2 separate regions of the Homo sapiens genome follow, and region 2 is linked to region 1. Evidence: fine-mapped expression QTL. Tissue or cell type: visceral fat. Region 1 holds a variant in brackets; the other region holds the start of a gene. All regions are shown on one strand. Distances are between the middles of the regions.

Evidence for each region. PIP is the estimated chance that this variant, and not a neighbour inherited with it, causes the effect.
Region 2: it holds the start of SLC29A1, and the variant in region 1 is fine-mapped to the expression of SLC29A1 in visceral fat (GTEx, PIP above 0.99). The same link has a PIP of 0.9 or more in subcutaneous fat.

What each region holds. Positions count from the first base shown.
Region 1 is chr6:44,201,241-44,203,996 of GRCh38, forward strand. It overlaps a transcript of MYMX not described here. Among named protein-coding and RNA genes, the nearest start is that of MYMX, 14 kb to the right of the region's middle. RefSeq lists enhancers at 1-313, 314-1,313, 1,314-2,314, 2,315-2,756. The variant G/A (reference allele first, on the strand shown) is at 1,285.
Region 2 is chr6:44,222,309-44,224,808 of GRCh38, forward strand. SLC29A1 (solute carrier family 29 member 1 (Augustine blood group)) reads left to right here and starts at 1,287. Exons shown (of 13, transcript NM_001372327.1): 1 at 1,287-1,333. RefSeq lists enhancers at 1,116-1,974, 2,217-2,366 and a silencer at 1,127-1,526.

The DNA of each region.
Region 1 (2,756 bases):
CCAGGCAGAAAGGCACTGTGATTATGACAGGGCTGAGCTCCCAGTTCCTGGGCTAGAACTCCGCCCATTCCCCACCCACACTGCCTATACCTGGCTGGCTCTGGTTCCTGGCCCCAAGGTCTCCCCACCTGCTCCTTGGTAACATCACCCCTTGACACACCCTGCCCTTGATGAGGCCTCCCTGGCTCCTTGTCAGAACTCCTTGTTTAGGGGTCAGAGCTGTCCTCAACCTCCCACAAACAGGAAGGGCCCCACACCAATGCTGATTTCCCAGAGGACAACAGGCCAGTGAAACATGACAGAGCGAGGGGCCACAGCCTCCGCAGGCCTCCCTTGATTCTTCAAGCATTAACAGAGCCCCAGCCTCTGATCTAAGTGCTGCCCATGAGCAGCAGGGTGCCTTGCATCAGGCCTCCAAGGAGCAGCAAGTTCTCTGCTGGCCTCTGACATAAGGGTGGAAGGAAGGAAACTAATATTTATGAGACACCTACCTGGTAGCCAAACTCTGAGCCTCACATTCTCCTCATCTCTTTATCTGGTCAGCTGTAGGTATTATTATAATTCCCATTTTAGGGAGGGGGACCACCCCATAGCACAGCTCCGGAAGGTGCCACTCTCAACTCCCGCTGTGCAATATACAGCCTGCTCTGGCATCCAGAGGGGCCCTGAGAGAGGGTCCCAGAGCCAGCATGTGGTTCCAGAGCGACCAACTCAGAAGCACCTCCAGCCAACTTCACGAGCTGGGACCCAGACACATGTTTTTAATGCAAGTCATGCGGAGGCAGTGGCCTGTCGCAGCATGCTCTTGAGCGCCTGGGTGGAGACATGCAGAAGGGGTGGGAAGAGCAGGACTCTCGGTGCCCGTGGGTCTGGCAAGAACCCATTAGCTCTAGTGCAACTCTTGCTATCATTCCTGCTTTCCCCATCTGCTGTCTGTCACTCTGGTGGCTCTTGGTGTGTCTGTCCTCTTCACCATTGACCCAGAGCCTTGCACGGGCTTTCACACAGTTGGCACACAATGTATGTTGTCATGTCTGGCCCGATTAACTGATGCCTGTGTATGGGCATCATCCAGAATGTTTCTGGATGGCCCTGGGCATCTGGGGAGTGGACCACAAAGGCAGATCCCAGGGGCCACTTAGTGCCAGCCCACAGTCCTCACCTTCACAGGTTGGTATCCAGATACTATTTTTTTTTTTTTTCAATTGACCTTAAGGAAACAGGAGATTTGGTCAGTTTCCTCAAAGTTGCCTGCAGAGCATGGGAGGCAGAGGTCAGGGAAGT[G/A]CAGGAAGGATCCATGACACAAGGCTAAACTGGGAACTGGAAGAAACTGCTCCCTGGCGGCTTTGTTCCTGACGAAGATGGTTATTTTTCCAGGAATGCTGAGGAAATCCACAGCAGCTTTAGTGTTCCCGCCTTGGAGAAAATGTCTGGGGCAGGCAAGGGAGGTGGGGTGGAGCTAATGGAAGTGAGGATGGGAAGGTGGTGGAGAGGGCAGTTAATCCCAGGAAGAGTCAGGGGTTAGAGAGTAAACTAAGACTAGATCCATTCCTTGGAGCCAGCCACTGCCCCTCCCCCACCTCCCTGCCCAAACCCCTCTGGAGTTCCCCATTGTTCCCAGAGACAATAGCTAGTTTCCTTTACCTGCCTCATCATCCCAGGCCCAGGAATCTCTCACTCTGTTTACAAGAGGCAGCGGTGGGGTAGGAGTATCTGGGCCTTACCCCAGGGTCCAAGGATCTCACCGCTGGAAGATCCCACAGCTATGGAAACTGAGGCTGGGAGGAGTGGGATGTGACTTAGCCAAGGTCACAGCAACCACAGATGTGGGCCAGTGCTTGGTGGGGCCTCCACGGTTCCCCGTGGAGTACGCACTTTGGTGGTTCTCAGAGGGAGCCATCAGGGCCTGCCGTTCCTCCCCTCGAGACTCTCTCCAGCTGTCTGTGCAGCCCAGGGGTTCTCACACACATCCTGGGAGTGTGTTTAGATCAGTGGAGCCCTGGAACCCAGCTGCACAGACTCTGGGGCAAGCAAACCTGGGTTTGGATCCTGCCACAGAACCTTCATTTATTTGTTCCGTAAACCAAAAAAAAAGTGTGTGAGACAGATCTCCGTCAACTTAGCGGTTTATTTTGCCAAGGTTGACGATAAGCCTGGGAAAAAGAGACAAAAGTTACAGAAGGCTCTGTGGCCTGTCCTTTTTCCAAAGACAGTTTCAGGATTTCCATTCTTAAAGGGGAAAGAGCAGCAGGAGGGAAAAGAGGAACAGTCCATTACTGGTGAGATTCAACAGAACTTGGCCTTAGGGTGAGGACTTTGGAGCCCACAAGGAATTCCTCCTGAGCAATTTGTGAGAAAGGTCACCTGGGGAAATATGCGGCCTTCCATTGCTGCAGCTGTCTGTTTAGGAACCAAAATAAGGCAGTTTTTGTGTGACTCAGTTCCCAAGCTTAACTTTTCCCTTTGTGAGTTTGGGGTCTCTTTTCCTTTCACATTTCTTACAACAATTTTTACTAGTATTTATTGCCAAGCACTGGGCCACAACAAAATTGTTCCTACTCTCAAGTCCCTTCTCTCAAGGAACTTATGTTTTATTTCTTTATTTTTATTTATTTATTTATTTTTGAGACAGAGTCTCGCTCTGTCACCCAGGCTGGAGTGCAGTGGCATGATCTTGGCACACTGCAACCTCTGCCTCCCGGGTTCAAGAGATTCTTCTGCCTCAGCCTCCTGAGTAGCTGGGATTACAGGCACGC
Region 2 (2,500 bases), 21 kb after region 1:
TGTGGGGCATGGAAACAGAAGGCTGGGGACACCCATTCTGGAGTAGCTTGGGGAGAGCCACTGACCCTAATTAGAAAAGCCACCTCTCTCCTTAGGGCCCTGTCTGTTTCTCTGGGGACAGGGTAGGACTACCTTATCCCTATGATGTGAGGTACTGCCAGTTGTTAATCAGTGTCTGTGGCTTCTCTAGGGGACAAGCCCTTCGGGTCAGTGGGCATGGGGTGGGCAGCGTGGGTTGGATTTTCTCCTCAGGACCTTTCCAGCCTTAGGATCATCCTCTAGCACTGAGTACTGCTGGAAGGGCAGGGAGTGCCCCCCACCCCACCCCATTTATTGCCCGACCAAAGAGAGGGCCTCCCTCCCCCTCCCTTGGAGGGACTTGCTGGACCACCCCTCAGCACGCCCACACCTTCCTCCTTAGCTAGTGAAAGACATACTCAGCAAGGCTTCCGCCTGTCAGGATGGCTGGGACAATAGGATTCACTGAGGATATAAGGCTGTTCCTAGCTTTTTCTCTTCCCATTCCCACCTGTGCCTCAGTTTTCCAAAGTGCTGGATTTAGAAAGGGTGAATTATGAGGGAGCTGGAGGGCTTTGCCCCACCCCCCTCCGCGCGCACACGCAAGCACAGGCAGAGGCACATACCCCCTCCAAGTCAAAGTTGTGAGTGGGGTGGTGTTTGCGCGTCTGTGGCTGGGACTGGATGTGTCAGGGATGGGAAAACCCATCATGCTGGTCACAGAAAATGCGCGGTGGGGACAGAAGCAGTTTTGAAGGAAAAGAAGAGGAGGGGGACTGAAAGAAAGAAGGGGGCGCTGAAAGGGAGGGCGCTGGGAGGAAAAAGGTGCAGTGTGGAGGAAGCGCGGCGTGGGCAGGGCTTGGGAAGGGATAACGGAATATCTGAGGTGGAGTGGGCCGTGGAGCGTCGGGGCCGGTCTGAGCAGCGGGTGTGTAAATGGAACAGTCCCGAGATGAATTTTATGGGAGTCTGCGCAGGTCCTTAATGTGTGGCTGTACCCTCCAGCCCCATGTACCCCACACGATGGACAGACAGCCTTGGTGTGGCAGGGCCCAAAGAGGTCCTATCTACCGCAATAACACGACCAGGCGGCCCTGGGGGCGCAGGGGCTCGGGGTGGGAGCGGCGGAGCGCGCGGAGTCGCCGCGGGGTGGCAGGGGTGGGCCGGGGGCGGGGCCGCGGGCGTCGGGGAGGTGGCAGTGGGCGCAGGGCGGGGCGAGCTCAGCGGAGGGCGGGTTTGAATGTGCCCCGGCGGGAGAGGGAAGCTGCAGCGAGAGCGCGCGGATCTCAGCGCGGGAGCAGTGCTTCTGCGGCAGGTGCTGCCCGGGGCCGGGGACTGGGGACTGGGGACTGCCGGGGCGGAAGACGCCGCTGCCCGCCTGCCACGGAGGGCAGGGAGGGCGGGCCTGACGGCTCCGCAGCCCGGAGAAGGGACGCCGGGTGGGGCCCCAGTGCGGAGCGTGCGGAGCCGCGCAGCACGTGGCGCGCACGGGCCAGGGAGCCTGAGGACCCTGCGGGGACCGGGACCCAAGCTGGGCGGGGCGGCCTGGCTCCCGGGCCTAAAACAGGCTGCGGTCACGTTGACCTCCGCAAGGGGCAGGCGAGTGGACGGGTGATCCCCATCGATCTGGTCGGTATCAGGGAGGGGCCGTGCCGCTGACTGCGCTGGCGGAGGGGTATGGGGATGGGGATGGGGATGGAGGCTCGCGAGCGGAGGTGCAGGCTCGCGAGCGGAGGTGCGGGGCTGTCTCTTTAACCCCGGTCTTTTACTGGCTAAACTCGTATCCCTGGCGTCTCCTTCCTGCGCACGTCTTCATTTACTGATTTACTGTGAGGGTATATGAGAGGGTGAAGACAAACAGTCCTCGGCTTTGCTTACCAGGAGAGAGCAGTCGTAGGTCAAGGCTGGCTCCAACCCTGCCCTCACACCTCTAGGGGTCTCTCTGCAGCCCTGTGGTAGTCCCTTTGCCTACTCCTCTCGGTGGCCTCCAGACCCTCCAACTTTCCTCCTGCTTGTGTAAGCTCCCCATGCCAGGATGTGTGTGATGGGGCGGGGCTGAGCTGCCTGACACTCAAGTCAGGCTGGGAATGATCTTGGTCTCCACCTCATTTTTCCCTTTAGTTGAATCAGAGTTCCCCCCACCTCCCAGTCTACAGGGCTAACTGAGAAGCAGCTTTTATACCTCTCTCCATTCCAAAAGGAGCTTGAACATTTAATATGGATTCTAGCTCCTCCACTCACCAGCTCTGTGACTTCAGGCAAGTGACTCAACCCCTCTGAACCTCAGCTGGCCCCATCTATTCAGTGCTAGTACTAGCTTATGGGTGGTTGTGAAGAAAAGACAAGAGATCTGCAGGTAGTGGCTAGCCCCATATGAAATCCTGGGAGTGGAGAATTGCAGGAGAGGTGTTGGGAGTCTGGAGGCAGGGAGGTACTCAATTTGGTGGCTACTTTCAGGGGCCCACCTCAGCAGGCCAAGGCA